Homo sapiens: one gene and its partners. The protein of the gene in region 1 purifies or fractionates together with the protein of each later gene. This does not show direct contact. Each region holds a gene or a part of one and is shown in the gene's direction. Other genes may lie near its edges.

Region 1 (4,197 bases):
ATCTTTAGTGCTTGGAGAGCTGACCACTATTAACCCCAAGAGACAGGATTCCTGAGGCAGACCTGGCTTACAGATCCCACTCTGCCGCCTCCAAGCTCTGTGACTCTAGACAGCTTTCTTAACCTCTCTGAGCCTAAACTCTGCTCACTAGTACAGAGGCACTCTTTACATCATGTGGGTGTTTTCTATAGCACCCTTTGTAAGGGGCAGCCCAGACTCCTTTAAGCCCCTAATGGATGTGGATGCTGTGTCTAGATTTTCACCATTGCAAAGAACCTTGCTAAAAGCATTCTTCCAGCTAAAGCCTCCATTCAATTCCCCTGGGGTAGTAAGCCATTTGCAAGAAGAGAGGCGCCTAATGAAAACATCACAAATTCTTTTTGATGTGTTTTTTTATACTGAGTTGTGGAACAGGGTCCTGTACACCTGGCTTCAAGGCTGGGAGGCCTGGCTTGGACATGTGGTCAGCCATATCACGTCGTCCCCCTGCCAGCCTCAGTGTCCACATCTACAACACTTGGGGTTTGGCTGGAGAGAACATGAGAAGCCGAGGTGGCCCTTCCTTCTGGGTCTAGCAGAGCATGGGTGTCTCCAGTGTGGCATTTGCTCCTGGGGCTTCTTTATCGGGCAAGGGGACAAGGTCTGGCTTCCCGGAGCATCCCTGTTCCAGCCCCGTGTTGTGCCGGCCATGTGACTCACAGCTCCTCTCATTTTCATGAGTGTCTGGGTTTGACGAGAAATACATGTGCCACCCTGGTGATACGCCTCCCCAGCGAGGGTGGCCGGGCTTATTTCAGTTGGGGGAAATGGCTTTGCTGAAGCTTTGGGTGGGTGACGTCTGCTTAGGATGCATGTCTGTGCCCTTGAACCCGGCGCCTGGCCTGGAGGCGGGCGATGCACCTCCTGCCTTACCTGCCTGCAGGGTTCCAGGTTTAACATCCTGCGCCTTCTCTCCTGCCTCCTCCACACTCCAGGCTGGACCTGTACCGAGCCTCGGGTAAATTTGAGCTTCTTGATAGAATTCTTCCCAAACTCCGAGCAACCAACCACAAAGTGCTGCTGTTCTGCCAAATGACCTCCCTCATGACCATCATGGAAGATTACTTTGCGTATCGCGGCTTTAAATACCTCAGGCTTGATGGTGAGTATGAGCCAGTGAGGCGTTTCTTACAGGGTTTTGTTGTTGTGGCTGCCACAGAAGCTCCTCACTGGCATTCCCTCCTGTGAGGCAGGGTGAGGCCCAGGCGCTCTGGGTCCAGTGGCCAGAGTGGGCCTAGCCACAGGCTGAGCATCTTGGGCACTCGGCACTGGGACAGGCCGTGGATTGGACGCCGGGTGTCCTGACTCCTAGGCTGACAGTCTTTCCACGACAATGCTGGGCGCACTGGGGAAGGGGTGCCCTGTGCACTTTTAGCTGGAAGTGACAGAATTCCATACCATGTGGACACAGGAAAGAAAGCACCAATAGGCTTACATAGCTCTAACCCCAGGAGGTTAAACATCCTTCAGGCACAGCTGGATCCAGGCATGCAGGTGATATTGGAGAGACTTTTCTCCAGCTCTTTGCTCTGCCTTCTTCCATCTTGGCTTCCTTTCCACCTGCTCAGTGTCCCCAACAAAGGCAGGTCCCAGGCTGGCTCTCATTTAGCTGCTGTGAGCCGCATGCCCATCCCTGGGCCATTCGTAGCAGCCCAGTGACTGCCACCTTGCCACAGGTCAGGCCTGGACCTGGAATCAGACTCTGTGGTGAGCACGGAGGGAGGGAAGCAAGCACTGCCAGGCAGGAGCAGCAGCTGCCGTAGAGAGGCTCTCAGCCCAACCCCCTGCCCTGCGGTCCCTGATGGGAAAGGTCACCGCCTGTGTTTCTGCGCCTGCCTGCCCCAGCACACGGGAGCTCAGGGAGGAGAGGCTGTGAGATGCCGACAGGGCACGTGAGACATGTCTGTCAGTCCCAGTGGGTCAGGGAGCCCTGGAGTGAGTTCTTCGTGGGAGTTACTAGAACTGGGCTTACGAGAAACACGAGCATGAGCTGCTGAGACAGACACGGCTCAGCCAGTTTGTTGTTCCCTACACGACCTCCCAGAGCCTTTGTTGAAGCTCCTGTGCAAGGTCTGTCTCACAGCAGGACACCCCAGACCTCCATACCCCTTGTCCCGTTGATCACTTGGACCTGTGTTTGCTGGGCCAACCTGCCCAGGTGCCACCCGGAGTGTGCCCTGTGTGTCCCTCCAAACTGCAGGTCCTCCCCGGGGTTCTGTCCAGGACCACTCTACAGACACGAGTCTGTTGCAGGGGTCTCCCCGGCTTGCCTTCTTCCTTGGGGGCTTCCCACTTTCAGCTTTGAGGCTGAAAACCAAAATCCTTCAGGGTCCTCATGGCCGGGCCACCCCCCACCCTTTCCTCTCCTACGGTCTCTCCAGCGGCTTCTCCCGTCCTCGAGAGGGCCAAGGCTTCCTGAGGGCCATCCCGTCTGTGTCGTGTCCCTGACTCCCCCAGGAGAGAGCCTGGTTCCCACCCATCCCAGTGCCCTTCTGCCTACTCCATAAGGACAAGGACTTTGGTCAGTTGAACTACAGATGTGTCCTCTGCATGTGATGTGGTCATGGCCACAGGGCCAGAGAATCCATTGCGAGTAGAGGAAGGGTAGGAGCTCAGTGAAGTCTCCTGAGACTGCATCTCCCATGGGTGGGCTGGCATCTGGGAGCCGGGTGGCCCCTCACCTCAGCCCCTCCTCCGAGCTGGAGTAGCAGGGGCACATCTGGTGCCTGAGAGAGGGTGGGACGGCAGGTGGATGGCCAGGCTACTGTGGGCTTCTGCACCGTGCCTGGGCATGTGTAGGCTGGTGGCAGGAAATGGCCAGTTTTTATTTCTTCTTTTTTTTGAGACGGAGTTTCACTCTTGTTGCCCAGGCTGGAGTGCAGTGGCATGATCTCAGCTCACTGCAACCTCCGCCGCCTGGATTCAAGCGATTCTCCTGCCTCATCCTCCCTGGTATCTGGGATTACAGGCGCCCGCCACTACGCCCAGCTAATTTTCTTGTATTTTTAGTAGAGACGGGGTTTCACCATGTTGGCCAGGCTGGTCTCGAACTCCTGTCCTCAGGCGATCCACCCACCTCAGCCTCCCAAAGTGTTGGGATTACAGGCATGAGTCACCGCGCCCGGCCTGCCAGTTTTTATTTCATCACCAAAATGACTTCAGTGTTCAGGGGCACCTCTGTCCGAACTCCCAGCAGCGCAGGGAGTGTTGACATTGCCTTAATGCCCACAACGCTGAGGGCATCGTGGGTTGTCACCCAGGAGACCTGCTCTGGCTCCTTGACTTGGGTTTTCTGGGGCATGGGGACACTGATCCTGCCAGAAAGGACACGAGCCCCCTTTATAAGGTCTCCATGCTTTTACCGTAGAAGATTCTCTTTGTGAACCACAAAACTTTTTGAGACAGGGCTGAAGGCAGGTGCACCCACAGTCACTGTCCACCCACCCCCAGGTCCCTTGTGTTGCGAGCGGCGGTGTTGCCGGCATTGGCCGCTGTGTCTTCCGCTCCCCATGGAATGGCACAGGGTAGAGTAGAGGAGAGAATCCAGGGCTGTGGTGGTGGTGGCTGTGCTGACGCTGGACGCTGTGGCCTAGCTGTGGGCTGGGTGCTGGACTCTGTGCTCCAGGCCCACCTCCTCTAGTTCTCCCAGCGGGGCCTGTTTTCATTTCTGGGATGTGTGGAGAGACGTTTTGTGGTGAAACACTGGAAATCCAGTTATTCGCCAGTGGCCCACAGGCCCGTGTGGAGAGTGCGGAGCCAGGGATCTGGGGATGCTGGCAGGTGCTGATCCTGCTCCTGCTCTCAGAAGCAGGTGTTCCTTGGTGTCCCCACTCTACCCCTGAGGTCACCCCGCTGACCCTGTTCTCCTCTGTGCCCGTCAGGAACCACGAAGGCGGAGGACCGGGGCATGCTGCTGAAAACCTTCAACGAGCCCGGCTCTGAGTACTTCATCTTCCTGCTCAGCACCCGGGCTGGGGGGCTCGGCCTGAACCTCCAGTCGGCAGACACTGTGATCATTTTTGACAGCGACTGGAATCCTCACCAGGTAAAAGCGGGCCGGGCCCCAGGTCGAGGAGAAGGAAGGGGGTGCCTGCAAAACCTCGAGGAGACGGCCCTGGCTTGAGGGTCCTCCAGCCTCCTCCACATTGTCTTGGACCC
Region 2 (4,197 bases), on another chromosome or scaffold:
TCTTCAGTGGGTTCATGAAAAACCCATTAATTTGTTGTCTGATCACCCGTTTTCTTACAAGGATGGAAGCTTTTTTTCCTGCTAGTTCATTATCTGTCTGAACTGAAACTGGAAGTCTACCTTATCATTTTAAAAATAGAAATTTCTGAAATATTTTATAACAATTTACCTGTCCCTTCACATCCTCTTTTTGTCAAGTACACATAGAAATGAATTTCTTTTTTAAAGGTCAAGGGTTAAGGAATAGATCTGGGAAATGCCACTAAGGTTTGGATCGGTGCACTTAGAACTGTTGTAAGTGAGAGGAAATGAAAGTATACGTACTGAAGGTGATTCACCTATTTGAGCTGCCAGTGTAAGATTTTTAATTGTTTTTGTTTTTTAAATTAATAGGTAAATGGATTTCGCAGTTATGTAGATCTTTATGTGAAAGACAAATTGGATGAAACTGGGGTGGCCCTGAAAGTTATTCATGAGCTTGCAAATGAAAGATGGGATGTTTGTCTCACATTGAGTGAAAAAGGATTCCAGCAAATCAGCTTTGTAAATAGTATTGCAACTACAAAAGTAAGTAAGCAAATTATTTGTTTCCAAGTCAGTGGTAGAACAGTACTTCAATAAAAACTACAAAACAAATAACAATATCCACAACCCCCAAAAAACCCAAATCTGTTTTTGTTAAATAAGAATTGACTTATGAAAACAAAAACCTATTTTCTATGAAATTGCTGTATTAAAATTTATTTAAACAATTATTGAGAAATAAATTTATATGACTAGTGTTTGTAGTTGAACATATTTATATTTTATGAAATTTAGAATAACAAATTCCTTTTTCTGTAACTTTTAGCCCCACCTTCCCCAACCTCTGGGGAGAGGAGAGGGGGCTGGTGACTGAGTTAAAAATCAATTATGGCTATGTGATAAAGCTCTGTAAAAACTCCTGAACAATGGAGTTCACAGAACTCCTAGGTTGGTGAATACATTTGAGGTGCCAAGAGGGTGGCATGTCTGGGTAAGGCATGGAGCTTTGTGTACCCTTTCCCCTGTACTATGCCCTATGCATCTCTTCCATTTGGCTATTATTGCTGGATCCTATATAAAAAACTTGTAAATGAAGTAAAGTGTGTTCTTGAGTTCTGTGACCTGTTCCAGCAAATTATCATTCCTGAGGAGTGGGTCATAGGTTCGTTAGAAGTACAGGAGGCCTAGGACTTGTAACTGGCATCTGAAGTGTGGGGAGTCCTGTGGGATTGAGCCCTTAACCAACCCTAAATACTTGTGCTAACTCCAGGTAGTTAGTATCAAAATTGAATTACATTGTTGAACATCCATTTGGTGTCTGGAGAATCAGAGAATTGGTTGCTGGTGTTGAAAGCACCTGAGAATTGGTGTTAGAATTGAAGTGAGGAAAGCAAACAAACAAACAAACAAAAAAAACACAGCGGTTGGTTTATTGGCTCTGTAGCCAAAATGTCTTATTTTTTTAAAATCTCAACTCTCGTTCTGAGACTCTATTACTCTTTTAGAAAATAGGGTTTATAATACAGATAAAGTATTTTGCTACTTTAACAATACAGGATTTCAGATTTCATATATTTTTTTTTCTTTAGGGTGGACGGCACGTGGATTATGTGGTAGATCAAGTTGTTGGTAAACTGATTGAAGTAGTTAAGAAAAAGAACAAAGCTGGTGTATCAGTGAAACCATTTCAAGTAAGGGATGTGTTATATATTGTACATGATGCATACATATGCATTATATATATACTGAATTACTAAATATCAGCTCTGATATTGACTTTTTTGGGTATGTTTTCAACAGGTAAAAAACCATATATGGGTTTTTATTAATTGCCTTATTGAAAATCCAACTTTTGATTCTCAGACTAAGGAAAACATGACTCTGCAGCCCAAAAGTTTTGGGTCTAAATGCCAGCTGTCAGAAAAATTTTTTAAAGCAGTGAGTAAAACTTGTATTTTTTTTATTGTTGTTATTAAGAGTTGATTAGGTAGTTTTCTTGATTTACTTTATTTGTGATTAGTTTCTTTCATCGTATTAACTGTGGGTATAAGCATGCTTGCACTACAAACTAATATGCTTAATTTGATAACTTTAAAGGGTAGACTTTAATGTTTCCTAAAACAATTGTTTTGCCAAGAACTAAAGTAGGGAATTATGTAACTAATTGCATTTTTAGCTTTGTATTGACCATTGTAAAGGTCAGATTTCCCCTAACAGATGTCCAGATCCTTATGCAACTCTTTCATCTTTTCTACTCTCATTTCAACTTGATCTACTGATTCTTATCTTTATACATGTTTAAAAATTGTGGTAACATGTATAACAAAATGTACTATTTTCTACATGTTCTTAAATTGCTTTGCTTTGCACATAATTTTTTTAGGCTACCTTAACTTCTCTAAAATAAGGTGAGAGCACAAATAAATAATGGAGATGAATCAATCACAGCCTCTCCTCTTTGGAATTTTGGTGGGGAAATGCTCTATAACTGCCCTAGAACTAATGTATTTCTCAAATTCCAAAAAGTAGATTATCAGAAACAAAAACAAAAGTTGTTTTTTAGGTTCTAACTTAAGGCCTGTAGAAATAGTACTTTTGGATCTAATCTTAATGAATTCTGAGTACAAATTATGCTATATTAATGCTTTCCCAAATTTCTGTCCTCATAACAATTGTTTCCTTGATGAAGTGATTTGATTTTAAATTTTATACTTTTTCATTTTAGGTGCACTAAGTTTAAATTTGACAACACAGTTCACCTCTTTTGTTTATGTCTTAAACATTCCAGAAAACTGTTTTATACACCTAACATCAAATCACCGAGGATGATAAAAAAACTTTTAGGACTTAGAGTTGGAGATGCTTAACTTTCTTTTCCTTTTTCTGTCTGGGTTAACATCTTGCCACAGATTGATTCACTGCAGAGTACAAACAATATGTAATGTTGAAATCTTTATTACCAAGCTATTTAAAGAATAAAAGTCTATTCATAAGTTACCAAGGTTATCCTAATGTTCCTTTTAGGTTAATACTTTTTGTCATAGTGAATTAAAGACTCACGTTTTGTATTGAAGGATATCAGAAATGTCAACGTCTGGAATTTGCCGGCTAGTAGGTTCATGTGTGGATCTGTTTTCACTGTGTTAATTTTAATAAAATTAATTTGTAACAAGAGCAATGCATATTCCTCATGGAGTTTATTATAATAGAATGTTTCTCATATGTAAAAGTTATCCTTTTTCATGTATTTATATTTTAGCTTTAATTTTACAGTAGTTGAGTAAAAGCTGATTAGCATGTATCATGATGCTTATCACCATTATTGTTTTGCCCTAAAATACCTTAAAATTGCACAGATTCCAGGTCTTGCATTAGGCCCTATACATTTTAGCTAAATGTATGAATTTTCAGCTTGTTTGTATACCATTATTCTTTTATTTTTAGGCCTCTAATTGTGGCATTGTAGAAAGTATCCTGAACTGGGTGAAATTTAAGGCTCAGACTCAGCTGAATAAGAAGTGTTCATCAGTAAAATACAGTAAAATCAAAGGTATTCCCAAACTGGATGATGCTAATGATGCTGGTAAGATTGATATTTTTAAATAAGATTTTGATTTAAGTTTCACTTTTATTTAGTTACAGAATTTTTTTATTTTCTACATATAGTTAGACTATGATTTTCCATTCAGAGTATGATTTTACTTCATTGAAATTATCACATACACAACATATTACTAATTTTCAGGGGATAGGAATTTAATAAAATATACTTAATATTTATACTGAGCAATAATGTAAAATAACTTTTATAGTCTTTCACTGTCAGCATTCTAATGTTAATTTTCTGACTTCATTTTTCTCATCAGTGAAAGTATGAGAAATTTTTACTATGTATAATTTTAAATTTCTCTCAGGTGGTAAACATTCCCTGGAGTGTACACTGATATTAACAGAGGGAGACTCTGCCAAATCACTGGCTGTGTCTGGATTAGGTGTGATTGGACGAGACAGATACGGAGTTTTTCCACTCAGGGGCAAAATTCTTAATGTACGGGAAGCTTCTCATAAACAGGTATGTATGTGTGTGTATATATATGTGTATACACACATGCACACATACATATGACATTTCTAATACTTTACTAAACTTCTCGAATTTTTAAATGTAATTTC
Region 3 (4,197 bases), on another chromosome or scaffold:
TTATACTTTTAAAATCACACATTAAAACTATGTTTCTTCTTTTGATGTTGGAGCTTGATTTTTTTCAGAAATGTATGTTATAATTTAGATACGCATAGTTCAATTTTAAGAATAGATAACATTTTTATGACTATTTTAGGGTTTTTATTTTAAGTACATTGTGGGAGTGGTTGTCTAAATGAACAGTTTGGGAATTTAGTACTTGGAATTCTGGATGTAGTACCAATATTTTGGAATTATGTAGCATCATTTCCTTAAGAGTTTTCACATATATTTTTACTTTCTCTTCCAAAGTATTTATGACTTGGAAATAGTTCAGAAATTATATAATTATGGCTCAGTTTCTTAATAATTAGATCATCCCTGTAGCCTCTCAACTGTTATGCCTTTTATAGTTTTTTTTCTTTTTTTGTTATACACTGGGAAGAAACTTAAGATAAATTTTAATTCTACATCATAGATGAGCAGTTTAGCAGTATTTTTAAGATGCTTCTTATGGGGGAAAAATGAAGAAATTTACTTTCTCTGATCATCTTTGAGTAAATATTTTAAAGAAAATATTATATATAATGTTACTGTTTTTAATGGAATTTTCAGATTGTTGTAAGCAAATATTTAATCTATGTAACCCCACCTAAGTCAAGAATAGAACATTGTAAGTACTTCAGAACTTTGTGTAATTTTCACAATTGGTTTAATCCAGGAAGAAAATAGGCAGGGGAAGGGGTATTAATCTAGAGACTATATAGATATCTGCTTACTGAATAGAGTCTTAGTTACTTTACAAACATTCACTGAATTCATCTAAGCCTATTATGTAAACAGGCCCTTTGGGAATTGAAAAGAAAGGTTTGTTCTTCTATCTGCGGTACTCAGAAACCAGAGAAAAGGCCTTTGTGCCTTTTGGCTGCTTGCTGCCATTTTCAAAAGTGTCACTCTGTTTAGACAGGTAGGTACTTTCTAGATTTAGACAGTTGAGAAGACTCCCCCCTAGGCCATGCCATTTCTGATGAAGGAATATGTTTGATAGTGAAGATGTCCTTTTTAAGGTCTAAAAAAAATGGCAAAGCAAGTTTGGTCCAAATGTCTCTTTCTTTATTCTAGCAGTTTTTCTGGCAACATCTGTGCTCAGATGAGTATGGATTCTTAATTGACTGTTAATTCATTAAAAAATTATAGCACAATGTTATATGCAGTCACCGTGCGAGGTGCTGCTGATACCAAAGCAGATAGTTTTTGTTCTCATAGAGTTTACATACTATATTTATGGCTGTGTTACCTACAAAGAAGAGTAGTGTTCAAGAAGCTCTGTATATATTATGTAACAAATGACTGCAGTTAGAGGTGTGTGGAGCATTGCAATGTGTGGATCACCAGAATTGCTGGGCTTAGAAGATAATTTAGAGCCTGGCTCATGAAACTTGGTTTGTTGTCAGAATAATCCAGAAAGCTTTAAAAAAAATTTAGATTCCTGGGTGTCATCCACAGTGATATTATTAGTAATGTTTGTGAAAAATTGCTTTAAAATTGAAGTTTTGTTATTAAAATAGTTTTAAATTGACTAGAGCACTTATTTAAATAAGAAATCTATTGGCCGGGCACGGTGGCTCACACCTGTAATCCCAGCACTTTGGGAGGCCGAGGCGGGTGGATCACCAGAGGTCAGGAGTTTGAGACCAGCCTGGCCAACATGGTGAAACCCTGTCTCTACTAAAAATACAAAAATTAGCTGGGTGTAGTGGCAGACACCTGTAATTCCAGCTACTTGGGAGGCTGAGGAAGGAGAATTCCTTGAACCCAGGAGGCGGAGATTGCAGTGAGCCGAGATCTTGCCACTGTACTCCAGCCTGGGTGACAGAATGAGACTGTATCTCAAACAACAACAACAACAACAACAGCAACAAAAACCCCCACAAAAAACCCTATTGTTTGTGCTGTAAAAAAGACTTGTTTTGAAAAGTAAATTGCATTTTAAAATAGAAATCCAAATTTTTATCTGTAGGGTTTAAGTGTATGCCTACATCTTTTGGATGGTTGGCATATGACATCATAGAGTTGCATTGTGATTACGGTATTATAAATTACTTTTTTTTCTAGTTAAGGCCTCATTAAAAATCAGGTTTGGCCAGGCGTGGTGGCTCACGCCTGTAATCCCAGCACTTTGGGAGGCGAGGTGAGTGGATCACGAGGTCAGGAGTTCAAGATCAGCCTGGCCAAGATGATGAAACCCCGTCTCTACTAAAAATACAAAAAATTAGCTGGGCATGGTGGTGGGCACCTGTAATCCCAGCTGCTCAGGAGGCTAAGGCAGAGAATTGCTTGGACCTGGGAGGCGGAGGTTGCAGTGAGTCGAGATTGCACCACTGCACTCCAGCCTGGGTGACAGAGCAAAACTCCGTCTCAAAAAAAAAAAAAAAATCAGGTTTATAAAATTTTGGCTTACGTTGCTTTTATGTACTGCTTCTGTCCTACATTACCCATTGTAGGTAATATTAATGAAACTGCATAATTTGATGAAGTACCCTATTCTAGTTTATAGGTTAAAATGTAACATAAAATATTAGGATACTTTATAAGTTTTCTGTGTTGATCAAAATTGGGAATAGAAGAAAGTTTGAGAGTCTTAATGTGAGTATATTCATATATAGATGTGGATTTATATACATAACTTTGTATTTTAATTATGCTTCTAATTAAGGGAGGAGAAAGTTCTGAGAAGAAACTATTAACCTTTAAGAGATGAACTTTTTCAGAGTATCACTGTGTAAGTTAGTTTTTAAAAAAGTTTTTAATGATGCCCAGAAAGTTAATTCTCCATCAAAGGTGGCAGTTTTAGATACCTTAGAAGTAAAATTATCTGCTCTTCCCTCTGTTCCAGTCTAATAGCATTTATTAATTAAGTAGTGTGATGGGAAAAACTGGGTGATTGTTTGGATGCTTACAACTATTTAATGTGGGAAAAAAATGAGGACTGTTAAATGAGAAACCAAATCCTTGCTTTGAAATAGCATTGGGTAATTTCAAAGCTCTCAGGCTGATTCTCCAGCTACTTTGCTGAGGTCTAGCTTAGTGGAGAGTTTTGTGAGGTGATAAATATGGAATACTTATTTAATATAGACTTCCATTCTTATAAGCACAACTGAGGGTTTTTGTTTGTTTGACTTTTTTTAATTCACAGGGAGAATGATGAATCAGCAAAAGAAGAGAAATCTGACTTAAAGGAAAAATCTACAGGAAGTAAGAAGGCCAATAGATTTCATCCTTATTCAAAAGACAAGAATTCGGGCGCTGGAGAAAAGAAGGGTCCAAATCGTAACAGAGTTTTCATTAGCAACATCCCATATGACATGAAATGGCAAGCTATTAAAGATCTAATGAGAGAGAAAGGTAACTATCTCTGAAATAACCCACTGTTGGATAATCTTCATATAGGCAGGGGAGGGAACTACACAAACATTTTTATTCCTCTGAGCCACACAGACTCAAAAAATTGATTTTTATTTCTTGACATGTGAATTAATCTTTTCCTCTTCTTTCTCTTGACACAATTTCATTACAAGGTAGTATGGATATTTTTCTTTTTGCCATTTTAGTGGGATAGTAGCGAGCCAGCATATGCATGCCACCAAGAATTTTGTTAAAGTGATTGCTTTGTCTAGTTGAAGTTTTTATAGATTTTAAAAGGGCTATTGCATTAGTTAAGCAATACATTTAGCGTGTTAAGAATGAATAATAAGGTCTGATTATTTATTTTTTTTCCAAAAGCTGTTTTGTTACTATCTTGGTGGAGTCTGGAATCTGGCTGTGGAATTTATTTTGTTTGCATTGTCATGACTGCCATGATGCTGTCTTTGCAGTTCTAAATTAAAATTGCATTACTGCTGTTGCAGTTTTGTTTTCAGAATAATCTGAAAACCTTCATCTTATATACATGGTTGGTTTTGGGGAAAAATAATTTTAATACTTGATCTTGTAAAAGTTAGTTTTGTTATCTCTTGAAAAATTGAGTTTCAACAGTCCTGCAAACTATGTACTTGGCTTTGAGGCTGATCTCTTCTAATAAATTTTTTTTTTTAAATTGCATTGGTGTATCTGTTGTAAGGTGACAACTATTTGATTGGTTTTATTCATTGACTTTATTTAGAAAGTGTGTGGCTTGCTGTGAAGCATGATTTGTAAATTTAGTTTACTGATGGC
Region 4 (4,224 bases), on another chromosome or scaffold:
TATAGATGTATTTTTATCCAAGTGCCACTCCAATTTGTGTATGTAATAAAATTATTTATATTAAAAGTGGGAAATAATTGTCAACATTTTTTTTGAGTATAGATTTATTAGGGGTGGCAAAGAAGAGTGCTAGTTAGCAGTTTTCCATGTAAAGTTGTCCTTGACTGATTTGTCCACATGTCAGTTGTAACTCCCCCACTCCCTGCAAAAGGAATTATTTCTAACCCAGATGTATCACTTGAAACTTTTTAGAAGCAAAATAATCAGGGAAGTTCCTAGAAAGGTGTTTGGCTTTTTGGTTTTTGAGGGTTGGGGTAAAGAAGACTTCCCCCACAACTGTCAGCACAAAACAGGGTATTGATTTTTAACTCTGATGTTTCTATTGGAGTTGAATACTAAATAAATAACTATAATGAGGGAAATACATTTCTAATAAAATTCCCTACATTCTAGAAACATCCCTGTTTTAATTTTTTTATCTAAATCTTTTTGTGCTTTATGTGTAAAGAAAAAAATGTACTGAGTTACAATGCATTTTATTAACACTATGTACATAATAGCTGCTTTGTGTTCAGAATAGTAGCAGTTGCTTTGTATATTAAAGTGATCCTTGTGAATTTGTGAAATATTGTCATAAAGTGCTTTTTCTTACTGTAATCTTTGTGGTATCAACTGTCATAATGCTCTTTTTACACAAACATTTATGTGCAGTCACATAAACATGCTTTTAAAAACTCTGTAAGTCTCTTTTTTGGGGATGGGATCTCTATATTTTGTTGGGTTTTTTTTGCTAGTAGTGTGAAGCCATGTTTTATTGGACTTAAAGTTACAATATATTACAAGCTTGTGTTGGAAGGCAGCAAAACTAATTCAGACAACAACATGTCTTCAGTTACTGGATCCCTAATTTTCAGGACAAAACCTGTTTTTCAATAAGATTGAACAGTGCCTATTTGTGGATTTGGAGATGTTACTGTCAAGATGACTAATGGAGACATACGACCAGCTGTGTCTGATGTCATAAAACACGTGTTCACTGAAAGGACAATAAGACTATATACCTTCTCAGGTCCCCTTGCAATTCTAAAACTCTGTGATCATATAAATTGGAAGGAAAGGGGAGGGGATATGGTTAATCTTTGCTTAAGCTGTAAGAATAAAAAAGTTATCTCCTATACTATTAACTTCTGAAATAAGTTCTGAGACGAGACATCTGAAAATAAGCAGCTGCATTATTTGTATGTTTCTTCACTGCCAAGATGTGTTCAAGCCTGCTATACCTGCCATTGTATTGGAAGGCTTAATGAATTTCATTTATTTTCTGCAACAACGATTACAGAATTTATTGCACAAAATGAGACATTTTGAGAGTGATATTAATTACATGAGGGACAATAGGCATGAACTAGGATTGTTCTAAGCAAATCGGAATCGGGTCACCCTGCCACGTTCAGGTGCTTGGACCTTCAGGAAAAGATTGCCCATCTTGTCATTTGACCAGGCACTGAAGTGACAAGACCATCCTTGAGAAGTCACATCCAAAGATAAAATTCTGATCCATTTCTAGTTTTAGTGTTTCGCCACTGAAGACTTAACATATGTCTTTTACACTCAGGTTGCAAAACACAGGCCCAAGACAAACTTAACTTCTCCCCCAAATCTTCCTTCCGCTGGTTTTTCCATCTCGTAAGTGGTGCCACTATCCATCTGTTAAATTGTTTAGGGGAAACCTAGAAAAGCACTACCTTAATCAGTGTTATCCTTCTTCTTAACTGTGCGTCCTAATTTCTCCACATCTTTCTTAAGTGCAGTGACCAAACCGGATGAGAATTCTAACACGGGCCTGACATCAAATGGAAAGGAAGGATAATGTCCAGGAGTTGGAATGTTATCCTTGTTTTTAATTAAGATGCAATTCACATAAATTAACTTTTTAAGTGAACAATTAAGTGGTAGTACATCCACAATGGTGTACAACCACCACTTCTATCTAGCTCCAAAACATTCTCATCACTCCAAAAGTAAAGTCCCGTTACTCTCCATTTTCTCCTCCCACCGCCCTTGTCCCTGGCAACCACCAATCTGCTTCCTGTTTCTTTGGATTTACATCCGGGTATTTCATGTGAGACTCATACACTGTGTATTACTTCTTTCGTCTAGCTTTAATGTGTTGTTGAGGTTGATCCATTGTAACATGTTATCACTACTTCATTCCTTTTTATAGCTAAGTATACTTTTTATAGTAAGTATGCCATTGTAGATATATACCACAAGTTTATCGATTCATCCAGTTGAGTTGTTTCTACTGTTTGGCTAATGTTCATAGTGCTGTTATGAATGTTCGTGTACAAGTATTTGAGTCCGTGTTTTCAATTATTTGGGGTATATGCCTGGGAGTGGAGTTGCTGGGTCATGTTGAAATCGCACATTTAACTTTTTGAGGAACTGTCAAACTTTCCCTCAGCAGCTGTACCGTTTTACCTTCCACCATTGATGTATGAGGGTTCCAATTTCTCCACACCTTCACCAACACTTATTTTGCCATTTTAAAAATTATAGCCATCCTCATGGGTGTGGTCTCTCATTGTGGTTTTGATTTGCATTTCCCTGATTACTAATGATGTGGAGCATCTTTTGTTGTCTTTGGCCATCTGCGTATCTTCTTTGAAGAAATGTCTGTTGAGGTCCTTTGTTCATTGAAATTTTGTTGTTGGGTTCTGAGTTCCTTATATATTCTGGGTACTAGGCCCTTATAATATTTTCGCCTATAAGTTTTTGCTTTATAATGTCCTCATTGTTTTCAAACTTACTTTATGTAATATGTACACTTCTAAAAAAAAGAAACATGGAAAAGGGCAAACTGTAAGAAGTTTTTTGTGTTATGTTTTTTGTGACAGTCTGTGCATATATACACAAATATAATGTATGTTCTCTCCTCCTCCCTCTCCCTTTTTTTACACAAAAGGTAGGTACAAACAGTGGTTTATAAACTGCTGCCATTGTACAGATACAGTTTAACCAGTCCTCTTCTGGGGACATTTGGCTGTTTGAAATTTTTTACTGTTACAGATATACAGAGGTTGGTAACTAGGTCTACACAAGTTGTATCTCCAGGATACTGAGAAGTAAAAGTTATTTCTGAATTATGGTTTTCTTCATATTTGGATATTGTTTCCTAATGATTATTAGGTATCTGCTAAGCAATTTTTATTAACTTATGTTGATTACTATTTTTATGTCAAACTTTACAGTCTAGGCATTTTTTTCTGGAATTAAAATTAGAAGTGGCACAGACTTTCATAAGGCTTTCCTTTTCTCATCTCTGTTAATACTGTTTTCTTTCTAATATCCTCAGAAATAACTGTTCTTAGCAAAGAAACAAGTTTTCAATATGCCATCTTTTCTAGTGTTACTAAATTTTTAACCCCTCTGGTTGTAGAAGGAAAGGTGTAACATGATTTTAGAGCAGAAAGCTAACAATTAAATCTTCAAGTTGGGCCGGGGTGCGGGTGGCTCACGCCTGTAATCCCATCACTTTGGGAGGCCGAGGCAGAGGAGGGCAGATCACCTGAGGTCAGGAGTTCGAGACCAGCCTGACCAACATGGTGAAACCTCATCTCTACTAAAAAATACAAAAATTAGCCAGGCATGGTGGCAGGCGCCTGTAATCCCAGCTACTCGGGAGGCTGAGGCAGGAGAATCACTTGAACCCAGGAGGCGGAGGTTGCAGTGAGCCGAGATTGCGCCATTGCACTCCAGCCTGGGCGACAGAGCAAGGCTCCCGTCTCAAAAAAAACTTCAAGTTTTAAGGTAAAACAGAGCTAAGGACTGTCCGGTGTCATGCTGTTTATGTCAGTGCTAAGATAGTACAAGTTTCCAGCTTCCCAGAGGAGGGTTCTCTATACTCACTGTACTTACCAATTCATGTTAAAGACCTTGAGAAAGCTACTTCTCTCTAGGTAGAGGTTCTGGGGAGCAGTGAGGTTGTGACTTCGTCTAACACTAACACAAATTACAAGTCTGTTTTACCAACTATTAAGTGAAGTCCTATATCTAGGGCCACTTAACAGTACTGGGGTACATTATATAGTGATTTTTTAAAGTACTTTAAAATTTTATTTTTGTTCATTTTTAAAGAATTGGCAGTAAATGCTTCCCATAAATAGCAATTAAATGGTATTATTATTGGAGGTGAATCTTTTGCATTATGGTAATTTTGTTATT
Region 5 (4,197 bases), on another chromosome or scaffold:
TCAACAGAATAACTTGTTAAAAATCGGCCCGTTTCCTATTATGGAAGATTTAGGTCATTTCCATGTTATAAATAATATTGAGGTGATTATTTTGGAGTATAAAACAAGAATGTTTATATTATGATCTATTACCTAACAAATAATTTTGCTCATTATATAGTAAATTGTGTTTTATCACAAGGCTATAAACAGCATGTTCAAGTTAGTATATTTGAGGTTGAACTAAATGTGCTAATATTAATATGTATATTTTTATTTTAGGGGGCCGAAACTCCACTGAGTGTACGCTTATCCTGACTGAGGGAGATTCAGCCAAAACTTTGGCTGTTTCAGGCCTTGGTGTGGTTGGGAGAGACAAATATGGGGTTTTCCCTCTTAGAGGAAAAATACTCAATGTTCGAGAAGCTTCTCATAAGCAGGTAGAATATAAGACGATCTTCAGAATCTAAATCTAATTTATAATACAAGACTTTATGCTTATATTTAATTCCCTCATTAGGCATTTTAAAATATATTTTAGACAATTTGTGCTTATTTTGAGAAATTAGGTACATTGTAGCCTATTTTAACAGACCTTTCTGATGTAGTAAATTATAAGCTAATAGCTCAAAATACTGGAGCTCAAGAAAATCCAAGCAACATATACTGTTAAATTTCTTTGTTCTTTTCAAATTTATAAACGATGCTTTTTTTGGTATATGTCCATTTCAGATCATGGAAAATGCTGAGATTAACAATATCATCAAGATTGTGGGTCTTCAGTACAAGAAAAACTATGAAGATGAAGATTCATTGAAGACGCTTCGTTATGGGAAGATAATGATTATGACAGATCAGGTCAGATTTGTTATTAAATTTTTAGATTGTTCAACTAAATTAAGCATGTCTTAATTTAATTTCATTGTTTTTTGCCATGAAAATAAATTAGTTAAATAGGAGCTTTATTCATCATCTCTAATCAACATCTAATCAGATATGCTTATATCATATGTATGTTGCAAATACAGGTTAAGTGAGTCTGGATTTGAACAGACCTTTTTTGATTCCCATAGAAAATTTGACAAATTGCCAGTAGGTCAGTCATAATATTTTTTTATTTCTAAACAATTCTTTGTTTGTTTGAGATGGAGTTTCGCCCTTGTCGCCCAGGCTGGAGTGCAATGGTGCAATCTTGGCTCACTGCAACCTCCGCCTCATGGGTTCAAGCGATTCTCCTGCCTCAGCCTCCCGAGTAGCTGGGATTGCAGGCGGATGCCACCACACCCAACTAATTTTTGTATTTTTAGTGGAGACAGGGTTTCACCATGTTGGCCAGGCTGGTCTCGAACGCCTGACCTCAGGCGATCCGCCTGCCTCGGCCTCCCAAAGTTCTGGGATTACAGATGTTAGCTACCACGCCCAGCCTAACAGTTCTTTTGAACTTTGGCTTTCAAATCTTTCTAGGACCAAGATGGTTCCCACATCAAAGGCTTGCTGATTAATTTTATCCATCACAACTGGCCCTCTCTTCTGCGACATCGTTTTCTGGAGGAATTTATCACTCCCATTGTAAAGGTACGCTAATTTCTAAGTACCATCATGGATATTTTAAGACCCTACTCCTCAAACCTGGATATACATATAAGCCCCGTCACATGTAGTGGTATACAGGGGACCCCACAGTGTACAAAGCCACAGTCATTGTTTTTTATCACAGGTATCTAAAAACAAGCAAGAAATGGCATTTTACAGCCTTCCTGAATTTGAAGAGTGGAAGAGTTCTACTCCAAATCATAAAAAATGGAAAGTCAAATATTACAAAGGTTTGTAATGAAACCCATATAGAACTTCTCATTTTATTATACACCCTGTACAAGACTATATGAAGGAACTTGGTATTTTTGGTTTTATAGGTTTGGGCACCAGCACATCAAAGGAAGCTAAAGAATACTTTGCAGATATGAAAAGACATCGTATCCAGTTCAAATATTCTGGTCCTGAAGATGATGCTGCTATCAGCCTGGTAGGTTTGAGTTGTATTTTATATACATTCTAATTTTAGAAATCACTACTTTAGCCAGTTGAAACATTTACATTTTTGTATAAGACTCCGTATCAAAAAAAAAAGAATGTTTTATAGAATAGAATGTTTCCAGTAAGCATATCCCAGAGAAGGAATCAGATATTTTAGAAAATTTTGATTTTTGGCTGGGCTTGGTGGCTCATGCCTATAATTCTAGGACTTTGGGAGGCCAAGGCAGGTGGATCACCTGAGATCAAGAGTTGGAGACCAACCTGTCCAACATGGTGAAACCCCCTCTCTACTAAAAATACGAAAATTGGCCGAGCGTAGTGGCTCACGCCTGTAATCCCAGCACTTTGGGAGGCAGAGGCGAGCAGATCACAAGGTCAGGAGATCAAGACCATCCTGGCTAACAAGGTGAAACCCCATCTCTGCTAAAAATACAAAAAATTAGCCGGCCGTGGTGGCACGCAGCTATAGTCCCAGCTACTTGGGAAGCTGAGGCAGGAGAATCGCTTGAACCCGAGAGGCAGAGGTTGCAGTGAGCCGAGATCAGGCCACTGCTCTCCAGCCTGGGCAACAGAGTGAGACTCCATCTCAAAAAAAAAGGAAAAAGGCCAGGCGTGGTGGCTCACGCCTGTAATGCCAGTACTTTGGAAGGCTAAGTCGGGCAGATCACAACGTCATGAGATGGAGACCATCCTGGCTAACACGGTGAAACCCCGTCTCTACTAAAAATAAAAAAAAATAAAAAATAAAAAATTAGCCGGGCTTGGTGACACGCGCCTGTAATCCCAGCTACTCCGGAGGCTGAGGCAGGAGAATGGCGTGAACCCAGGAGGCGGAGCTTGCAGTGAGCTGAGATGGTGCCACTGCACTCCAGCCTGGGCGACAGAGCGAGACTCTGTCTCAAAAAAAAAAAAAAACAAAAAAGGTCGGGCGCAGTGGCTCACACCAGTAATCATAGCACTTTGGGAGGCCGAGGCGGGTGGATCACCTGAGCTCGGGAGTTCAAGACCAGCCTGACCAACATGGTGAAACCCCATCTCTACTAAAAATACAAAATATTAGCTGGGTGTGGTGGCACGTGCCTGTAATCCCAGCTACACGGGAGGCTGAGGCAGGAGAATCACTTGAACTTGGGAAGTGGAGGTTGTGGGAGCCGAAATCGTGCCATCACATTCCACAAGAGTGAAACTCCATTTCAAAAAAAAAAAAATACAAAAATTAGCTGGGCGTGGTGGCGGGCGCCTTTAATCCCAGGGGCTCAGGAGGCTGAGGCAGGAGAATCGCTTGAACCTAGGACGCAGAGGTTGCAGTGAGCCAAGATGACACCATTGCACTCCAGGCTGGGCAAGAGAACAGTAACTCCCGTCTCAAAAAAAAAAAAAAAGGAAAACAGTATTTTTGTTTTTCTGTTGTTCGTTCTTTGTAGAAGGATATTTTGGAACCTATTAGCCTATTAGTACCAGTGACATCTTTTCATCCTTTAATTTATAGGCCTTTAGCAAAAAACAGATAGATGATCGAAAGGAATGGTTAACTAATTTCATGGAGGATAGAAGACAACGAAAGTTACTTGGGCTTCCTGAGGTAAAAGTTTTAAATATATGCCACAAAATGGATTGTTAGACTGACCTTTTGGTATTGATACTATAGCAAATTAAACTTACTGAATAGTTATTTTAGTAAAAAATTTGATATGATAGAGTTGTGCAGCAGTTAAATTTGCTTTATCTTTAAAACATATAAAATATTTCTGTATTATTCAATATTTTTTAAAGACTTAAGAATTACAGAAATAATTCTTAGTTCTGAAAGGTTTCTGTTTGATTTTTGTGTTGAGCATTGTTTAGACCGGTAGACTCATGTAATACTATTTGGTCCTTCAGGATTACTTGTATGGACAAACTACCACATATCTGACATATAATGACTTCATCAACAAGGAACTTATCTTGTTCTCAAATTCTGATAACGAGAGATCTATCCCTTCTATGGTGGATGGTGAGTTCCAATTTGTTAGTCTGTTTTCATTGTAAGATGGAAATCAAATTCCAAAATTGGTTAAATTGAGGATACTTACGTTTGCTCTTATTTCATTTTAAAGGTTTGAAACCAGGTCAGAGAAAGGTTTTGTTTACTTGCTTCAAACGGAATGACAAGCGAGAAGTAAAGGTTGCCCAATTAGCTGG
Region 6 (4,197 bases), on another chromosome or scaffold:
CTGACTGACCTGAATGTCTTGAAGGTTCCAGTTAATTCCTCACTAACAGGGCTTTATTGAATTGATAACAACAGAATGAGTTTTTCCTGAAATGGAGAAGATGGAGTCACAGTAGTAATGACTACCCGGTGTGTATGTAAATCTCATATGTCCTTCTCAACAGCCCTTTGGGGAAGGCAGTTTTGATCTCAAATTACAGAGGAAGAGAATGAGAGGCCCAGAAAGCCTAAGTGATTTGTTGGTGGATGCTCAGCTTATGAGTGGCACTGATAGGCTTAGAAACATTGTCTCTGGCCCTTGATGCCCAGCTTTGCACCTCTTCAAGAGGTCTGGGAGGAAGACCAAGATATGAAGAGTTAGTGAAAGGCCAGTACTGGCTTCCTAGTAACATAAGATGGTTAGCAAGCAATGCTTAGTGGAAAGAGGATGAAAATTAAAAGTGAAAATTCAATGTAGCTGTAGCTACTAGGAAATAAAAATCTGGGAGCTGAATTTCCAGTTAAAGGAATACATGAGTAAACTTTCACTTTCTTGAAAATGATGAAACTGCCAATGATACAACATGATTTCTGATTGGAAATAATCAAGCAGAAACAAAATGCAAGTTCTTGGTAGCAAGTCTGAACAATTTTATGATCAGCATAGAAAGTCAACTCTGATCTGAGGTCCCCAAACAATTTTTTTCAATGACCGGGATGTTTGAGGATCTCAACTTTCTGAAAAATTGTGTGAAGATTTAACTTCATTTCCTTGTGGGGACACAGCCGTAGTCTAGGCTGAATCATACCTCGAGAGACTGAGTAAAGGAATAACTAGAAAGTATCCCGAGAAGTTAAGCTTTAGCCTAGTGCCGAGAAAACCCAAATCTCGACAGATACATCTGTTTTATTTTCTGAAAGGCTTTTAACATTTTTACAACCATTTATGTCCCCAAGGAAGCCCACCCAATGCTTTTCATAAAAGCATTCCATACCACTGACATTCTTCAGCTTCTTTCATTGGGACTGCTGACTTTACATAAGAAGAAGGGTAGGGGGCGGGAGTCATAAACAGCAGACCCCAAGCCCTGAGAGCTCATTAATAAACCTAGTTGGATGGCAAAATGGAACTACACTCTACTGCAGTGGAATTCAAAGTCCCCGTGTAGAAGGGAGCCATCCAGGCCTCCAAACAAAGACCAGCCCAGTGGCAGCTCTGAATGTCATCCCCGAATCACTGAGTTTTTAATAAACTTGGAAAGGGAAGGGAAACATGAATGCATGGGAGAATCTTAAGCCTCTGGCTTTAGAAGGCTAGTTTCTCAGAGTTTATTGCCTGACAGCGACAAGTATCCTCCCAGCATCCTAAGATTATAGGATTAAATTGAGAGAAGAACTTCAGTTCTGACTCATGACACAGGGCTTTGGGAAAAGAATTACATACATAGCCTGGGTTTCTTTGACTAGTCAAGGGCAGATTTCATTGGCCTGGAAGTCTTGCCTCCATTGGTGTATGTTAGATCTCCAGGGGGAGTTTGAAGTCAGGGTATTCTATTCAGAAGCCTTTGAGATCAAAGTGGGTGACCAGCTGCCCTCCTTCCTGGACTCCACAGAGCCTCTGTCAGAGAGCCAGCCCTGGGCTGGAGAGATCTCTGGGAGGCCTAGTAATCATGGAGCTCCTGGCCAAAGAATGTTTTCCAGGGCATATTCATGTATTAGTTCCTCAATTCCTCATAGGATATTATGGGAAAATAGGGCGATTATTACAAGCCCTCTTTAACAGAGGAGAAAAAGCCACGGGGAGGTACAATGATAACACATAATGGAGTAAGTGGGCTTCAAATCTTCATCTTCTGACCTCAGTCTGGGAATTTTGTGGATAAGAGACCCACTTGCTCACACTCCCAGAAGGCAGTTAGCAAGCAGCCTGGGTATGCACCGTGACATAAAGATTAGCAGTTCATTAAACAGAGTTCAGTTTATCCCGAGGAATCTTTACTTAGCCTCCCCTCTATCACTTCATTTCCAGGCCTCCCACCTACCTTAAGGCCTGCCCCGAGAAAATTTGCTCTGGTTTTTTGTTTGTTTGTGCAATATAACATAATGCTTGTTTGTTTTTGTAATGTAGAATAATATTTGTTTGTTTTTTGCAATGTACAAATTAAGGGCATGAATCCTGGAGCCAAACTAACTTAATTCCAAATCCTGATGCTGCCCCATATTAATTCTGTGAATTCGGGCAAATGACTTAGTTTGTCTAAACCTCAATTATCTCATCTATAAAAGGCAGCTAGATCTTAACTCACTGGGTTCTCGTGAGGATTAAATGAGATAGTGCCCCTAAGGTTTCTGGTATGAAGGAGGCACTCCTTAAATGTTCGAGACTTGCCAGAGGGCTTCTTCTCTGTCTGGACTGTGCTAATGACCACAGATCCCCGGTTGAGAGGAATGCCCAGACCACACTCATCCTACACTCATCCCTATACTCATTGTCCCTTGGGAACCAACTGCAGGGAGGAGGGGAAATGGCCACCACTGGAGGGAGTACACAGCAGGCCAAGACTTATGGGGGACTCTTCCAAATTGGGGCCATGGAACTGTCACTATTTCTACTCTTTATTTTCCTTTTGTCATCCTTTTGGGTTCACCGAGCTATAGAATAACAGAGGGAGATGAATTTAGCAAATACATCACTGAAGCTTCTCCCTCGGAAGTTGGGCCCAAGCAATGGGAATGAGAAAGGTAACCTTGGACCGTGGGGGCCATTTGATTTGATGACCCCATCCCCACTTCATTTATCAGTTGGCCAATGAGGCATGGCGAGTCAGGCATTGGGCCAGGCTCTGGGTAAAGCAATGGTGGAGACTCAATGCTTGCATTGGAGGAGCTGTCAGTCATTTACCAGACACAGACTGGGTCCTAGAGAGCTGAAATTACTAGCTCAAGTCACTGCTGTTTAGTGCCAGAGCCAGCCCCAGGGTTCCCTGCCCCCACACCCAGCCTAAGTCTATCCCTATACCACAGGCCTGAACAACTCCCCCACAATACAGTGCCTCACTTTTCTTTAAGACCTTTTGCTTTGCCAACCTTAACCTTAAGAATCCACCTCCCCATCCCCTGCCAAAGACTGGGGTGAAGAAACGCACCTGGCTACAGTTACCTTTCTCATTCCCATTGCTTGGGCCCAACTTCGGGGGAGAAGCTTCAGAGATGTATTTGCTAAATTCAAGGATTCCCCACTTTTTGCTTTTACTTCCACTCACTGATAGTTTCAGCTTGACGTCAAGCCTCTTTGAAAAAGAGGCTTTTTTTTTTAAGTGAAAGAAACTTTATTTTGAGTAATATACAAAAAAAAAAAAAGAGAGAGAGAGAGAAAGAAAAAGAAGCTGAAAATGAGATTACTCATGATTTTTAAAATGGCCTCACTGATTTTTAAAAAATGTTCTTCCTCTTTCAGGACTGTTTGTGGCCACATTTGCACATAGGCACACCAGCCAAAACTCATAGATCTTGTGAATTCAGAGTAGCCTGAAACATCATCCCTTATAAATTTCAAATAGGCATTTTGTTCATGTCACTGAGCTATGTGTATTTTAAGAACCTGCTTTACTTAAGATGAGGATGGCATGAAATGAAAACAAAACAGAAACCCAAGGGCTTATGGGACTTTTCTCTGAGGGTGGGGCTCTGGTGTTGGAGGTCTGGTGGGGGAGGGGGACTTGATCCCATGCCCCAGAGCCCCTGAAACAGTTTGGGTTTCAATGTGTCTTTCAGCAAAATGATGCTTCAACACCCAGGCCAGGTCTCTGCCTCGGAAGTGAGTGCTTCTGCCATCGTCCCCTGCCTGTCCCCTCCTGGGTCACTGGTGTTTGAGGATTTTGCTAACCTGACGCCCTTTGTCAAGGAAGAGCTGAGGTTTGCCATCCAGAACAAGCACCTCTGCCACCGGATGTCCTCTGCGCTGGAATCAGTCACTGTCAGCGACAGACCCCTCGGGGTGTCCATCACAAAAGCCGAGGTGGGTTCTATCACAGGTATTCATTCTTTCGGCACATGTTTCGCTCGCAGCCACTGTGTGTTGGGCATGTTCTAGGCAGGGGGCTGTTGTTGAGAGTGAAACAAACAAAACCACTGCCCTCAGGGAGCTTACCTTCTCCTGGGAGGAGACAGAAGTACATAACATACGTAAGTACACGTTAAGAGATGAGTGCAAAGGAGA
Region 7 (4,197 bases), on another chromosome or scaffold:
CTAGTGCCGTTTTTTGAAATGACAAACCTTTCCCCATTGAATGGCCTTGATACGCTTGTCAAAAATCATATGACTGTAGGATACGTTGGCTTATTTCTGGACTCTGAATTCTATTTCACTGATCTGTATGTCTGTCTTTATGTAAAAGCCACACTGTCTTGATAACTTTGCTTTGTAGTAAGTTTCGGAATAGGGAAGTGTTGATCTTCCAGCTTGTTCTTTTTCAACATTTTCTTTTTTATTTTATTTTGAGACAAGGTCTCATTCTGTCACCCAAGCTGGAGTGCAGCAGTGTGATCTCAGCTCACTGCAGCCTTGACCTCTTGGGCTCAAGTGGTCCTCCCACTTCGGCCTCCCGAGCAGCTGGGACTTACAGGCATGTGTCAGCACGCCTGGCTAATCTTTTTATTATTTGTGGAGGCTGGTATTGAACCCCTAAACTCAAGCAATCTTCCTGCTTCAGCCTCCTAAAGTGCTGGGATTACAGGCCTGAGCCACCAAACCCCGGCTTGAATAGTTCTTTCATTAGAAAATGTATATTCCTTTTAAAACAAATTTTAGTTTACACTACTTAAGGCCATTGAAATATTTTTGCATATGTATGCATACTGTGCCTGAGTATACATATGTAATGTGTACTTTCCATTTTATTTATTTTTTTGGATACAGAGCGTCGCTCTGTCGCTCAGGCTGGAGTGCAATGGTGCGATCTGGCTCACTGCAACCTCCACCTCCCAGGTTCAAGCTATTCTCGTGCCTCAGCCTCCTGAGTAGCTGGGATAACAAGGCATCTGCTACCACACTCAGCTAATTTTTGTATTTTTAGTAGAGATGGGGATTCACCATGTTGGTTAGGCTGGTCCCAAAACTCTGACCTCAAATGAACTGCCTGCCTCAACTTGCCAAATTGCTGGGATTAAAGGCATGAGCCACCGCCCCTGGCCATTGTATTAACATTTTAAAGACATATGAACAGGCCAGGCTCGGTGGCTCACAGCCTGTAATCCTACACTTCGGGAGGCTGAGGCAGGCAGATCACGAGGTCAGGAGATCAAGACCATTCTGGCCAACACGGTGAAACCCTGTCTCTACTAAAAATACAAAAATTAGCCTGGCATGGTGGCGCATGCCTGTAATCCCAGCTACTCAGGATGCTGAGGCAGGAGAATTGCTTGAACCAGGGAGTCTGAGGTTGCAGTGAGCCAAGATCGGCCACCGTACTCCAGCCTGGGGGACAGAGCGAGACTCTTGTCTTTTTTAAAAAAAAAAAAAGATCAGCTGGGTGTGGTGGTGCCTGTAATTCCAGCTACTCGGCCTATAATTCCAGCTACTCGGGAAGCTGAGACAGGATAATCGCTTGAACCAGGGAGTTGGAGGTTGCAGAGAGCCGAGATCACACCACTGCACTCCAGCCTGATGATAGAGCGAGACTCCATCTCAAAATAAATAAATAAATAAATAAATAAATAAATTAGCTGGCTGTGGTGGCACACGCCTGTAATCCCAGCTACTTGGGAGGCTGCGGCAGGAGAATCGCTTGAACCTGGGAGGCAGAGGTTGCAGTGAGCCGAGATCATGCCGTTGCACTCCAGACTGGGTGACAGGGTGAGACTCCGTCTCAAAACAAAACAATACCTATCAAGAAAGTATAACTGCGGCCGGGCGCAGTGGCTCAACACCTACAATCCCAGCACTTGGGGAGGCTGAGGTGGGCGGATCACCTGAGGTTGGGAGTTCAAGACCAGCCTGACCAACATGAAGAAACCTTGTCTCTACTAAAAATACAAAATTAGCCGGGCGTGGTGACACATGCCTGTAATCCCAGCTACTCGGTAGACTGAGGCAGGAGAATCACTTGAACCCGGCAGGCGGAGGTTGCGGTGAGGCGAGATCATACCATTGCACTCCAGCCTGGACAACACGAGAGAAACTCTGTCTCAAAAAAAAGAAAAAAAAAAAAAGTATAACTGTGTTCCAGATGAAGCAGAATGTAGGTTAAAACCTTCAGCTCTATTTTATCTGAAACGTAATAATTTCTTCTTGCATTTTTGGACTGCTCCACTGTGTTTTATATTTATCTTAAGAGAAGGAAAAGAAGATGATACTCTGTTATTTGTATGGAAACAAGAGACAGAATATTAGTGTTTTACCAAGATCAGTATTTGGATTAGAGTTCAGGTCTTTGGATAACTAGTTCAGTGCTGTAACCTCTGAGACAGAATTTGGTCTTCCTTTGGTGACTTGTCCTAAGTTGGTTTATGTTTGTTTGTAGTCTTGGGAGACTGAACTTTTCCTTGATTGTAATTGGGCCATCACTCACTCTCTCGCTTTTTTTTTTTTTTAATCATTTACCTTTGTGCTATTTTCTACTATAACCATTGTTACAAATACACAGTTTCACTTGGGCTAGAAAACTGTTTATCAAAGGTAACAAATTCCATGTTTTAAATAAATGGAATTTATCTTAAGTTTTTAAAGTAACATCTTTAGACAGATGCATTTTCCAGATTTACATCTTATTGTAGATGTTATTGTCAATAGACAATCAGGGTTAAAAATTATTGGGGCTGAGTGCAGTGGCTCACATCTCTAATCCCAGCATTTTGAGAGGCCGAGGCAGGAGGATCGCTTGAGCCCAGAAGTTTGAGACCAGCTTGGGCAAACATAGTAAGACCCTATCTCTAAAAAAATAATAAACACTTCTTAAAAATTGTGACATTGTAAATAGCATTGCCATGTACCCTATGGTGTCAAGGTTTGTGACAATTATGGAAAAACTTAACAAAATTAGCGGGCTGCTTTTGTTGAGGGAAATTTCTAACTGAATAAACCTAATTAATGAATGATCAGAAATAAAATTTTTATCATTAACAGTAACTTGCAGAATAATTAGAAAAATAGGTGTTCAATGTAAAATAATTATTATCCACAAGTGCGTCCCTGCTGTTGCTTTTCAGGTTTGTTTTCTTGTCATCAGGGCTATTAAGCCAAATTACTGTCAGATTCCTCAGGACTGAAATATGTTTTATTTTGAAATAGTTATTTTACTAGTTTGATTTATCGTGATCTTTTTGAGGATCCTGTAGGTGCACCTGTCAGAAGATGTTTCAGTTAGTCCTATTTATGGACTGTTAACTGTTTCTTCAGGATTGTTTAAAATATATTAAGAAGTGATATTTTGGCTGGGTGTGGTGGCTCACGCCTATAATCCCAGCACTTTGAGGGGCCGAGACGGGTGGATCAGTTGAGGTCAGGAGTTCGAGACCAGCCTGGACAACATGGGGAAACCCCGTCTCTACTAAAAATGTAAAAATTAGCTGGACACGGTGGTGTGTGCCTGTAGTCCAGCGACACAGGAGGCTGAGGCGGGAGAATTGCTTGAACCCAGGAGGCAGAGGTTGCAGTGAGCCGAGATCGCACCACTGCACTCCACCCTGGGTGACAGAGCAAGACTCTGCCTCAAAACAAAAACAAAAAGAAGTGATATTTTGGAGATAAAAGATTTTGCATTGAGTTGAGGGATGAGATGTCACCACAAATTCAAGGAGTGTAGGAGGACTAGATGTTGCTGCCTTACATGTAATTTCTTGTAACAGATTAGAATTAGAGAAAGCAAACTAAGATTTGATAACTACTGTATACTAGGCACTTTTTACTCCATATTTTATTTAATTTGTAAGAGTGGGATTTACTAGGAAAATATCTGATTTGAGTCTTTTTATTTTTAACAGTGAAACTGGAACGCCAAGCTGAAGAAGAACGAATACGGAAGCACAAAGCAGCTGCTGAGAAAGCTTTCCAGGAAGGGATTGCCAAGGCCAAACTAGTCATGCGCAGGACTCCTATTGGCACAGATCGAAACCATAATAGGTCAGTTCCTAAACCAAATTTTTGTTTTCTTTAGGACTATTTACATTGCTATTAGTTAGGAAAATTTTCTAAAGTACAAGAATAGACAAGCTTCTCTCTTCAGTTTTCCAATTCTTTTTGGAAACAGAATTGTTGATGATTATTGAATATTAACTGCCAAATGCTAGAGTTGCAAAGTTAAGTAAGACATATTCCTGCCCTTGCATATACCACAAGTAGGAAGCTTACATGATGGTGATAGGTGAAATGTAATCCAAGTCTTTAAAAATGGCAGTAGGTTTTAAATACATACATTTTGTGAAACCTAAAGGAGAAATATTAGTAGTT

Evidence for each region.
Region 2: the proteins of SMARCA4 (region 1) and TOP2B fractionate together in Homo sapiens (co-fractionation; 3 studies listed by BioGRID, with this or other methods). This does not show direct contact.
Region 3: the proteins of SMARCA4 (region 1) and MYEF2 purify together in Homo sapiens (affinity purification with western blotting; 3 studies listed by BioGRID, with this or other methods). This does not show direct contact.
Region 4: the proteins of SMARCA4 (region 1) and CREB1 purify together in Homo sapiens (affinity purification with western blotting; 3 studies listed by BioGRID, with this or other methods). This does not show direct contact.
Region 5: the proteins of SMARCA4 (region 1) and TOP2A purify together in Homo sapiens (affinity purification with western blotting; 3 studies listed by BioGRID and IntAct, with this or other methods). This does not show direct contact.
Region 6: the proteins of SMARCA4 (region 1) and ATF3 purify together in Homo sapiens (affinity purification with western blotting; 2 studies listed by BioGRID). This does not show direct contact.
Region 7: the proteins of SMARCA4 (region 1) and BAZ1B fractionate together in Homo sapiens (co-fractionation; 3 studies listed by BioGRID, with this or other methods). This does not show direct contact.

Annotation. Positions count from the first base shown.
Region 1 is NC_000019.10:11,026,810-11,031,006, forward strand, and holds part of SMARCA4 (SWI/SNF-related matrix-associated actin-dependent regulator of chromatin subfamily A member 4), read left to right. Parts: intron 1-974; coding exon 975-1,141; intron 1,142-3,920; coding exon 3,921-4,084; intron 4,085-4,197. UniProt on the Homo sapiens protein: ATPase involved in transcriptional activation and repression of select genes by chromatin remodeling (alteration of DNA-nucleosome topology).
Region 2 is NC_000003.12:25,630,211-25,634,407, reverse strand, and holds part of TOP2B (DNA topoisomerase 2-beta), read left to right. Parts: intron 1-393; coding exon 394-567; intron 568-1,613; coding exon 1,614-1,715; intron 1,716-1,824; coding exon 1,825-1,962; intron 1,963-3,468; coding exon 3,469-3,607; intron 3,608-3,938; coding exon 3,939-4,096; intron 4,097-4,197. UniProt on the Homo sapiens protein: Key decatenating enzyme that alters DNA topology by binding to two double-stranded DNA molecules, generating a double-stranded break in one of the strands, passing the intact strand through the broken strand, and religating the broken strand.
Region 3 is NC_000015.10:48,167,821-48,172,017, reverse strand, and holds part of MYEF2 (myelin expression factor 2), read left to right. Parts: intron 1-3,178; coding exon 3,179-3,387; intron 3,388-4,197. UniProt on the Homo sapiens protein: Transcriptional repressor of the myelin basic protein gene (MBP). Binds to the proximal MB1 element 5'-TTGTCC-3' of the MBP promoter. Its binding to MB1 and function are inhibited by PURA.
Region 4 is NC_000002.12:207,602,695-207,606,918, forward strand, and holds the end of CREB1 (cyclic AMP-responsive element-binding protein 1), read left to right. Parts: 3' UTR 1-3,294; downstream 3,295-4,224.
Region 5 is NC_000017.11:40,404,189-40,408,385, reverse strand, and holds part of TOP2A (DNA topoisomerase 2-alpha), read left to right. Parts: intron 1-261; coding exon 262-419; intron 420-711; coding exon 712-837; intron 838-1,443; coding exon 1,444-1,554; intron 1,555-1,696; coding exon 1,697-1,802; intron 1,803-1,892; coding exon 1,893-2,002; intron 2,003-3,502; coding exon 3,503-3,595; intron 3,596-3,894; coding exon 3,895-4,009; intron 4,010-4,112; coding exon 4,113-4,197. UniProt on the Homo sapiens protein: Key decatenating enzyme that alters DNA topology by binding to two double-stranded DNA molecules, generating a double-stranded break in one of the strands, passing the intact strand through the broken strand, and religating the broken strand.
Region 6 is NC_000001.11:212,611,266-212,615,462, forward strand, and holds part of ATF3 (cyclic AMP-dependent transcription factor ATF-3), read left to right. Parts: intron 1-3,752; 5' UTR 3,753-3,756; coding exon 3,757-3,996; intron 3,997-4,197.
Region 7 is NC_000007.14:73,470,018-73,474,214, reverse strand, and holds part of BAZ1B (tyrosine-protein kinase BAZ1B), read left to right. Parts: intron 1-3,731; coding exon 3,732-3,870; intron 3,871-4,197. UniProt on the Homo sapiens protein: Atypical tyrosine-protein kinase that plays a central role in chromatin remodeling and acts as a transcription regulator. Involved in DNA damage response by phosphorylating 'Tyr-142' of histone H2AX (H2AXY142ph).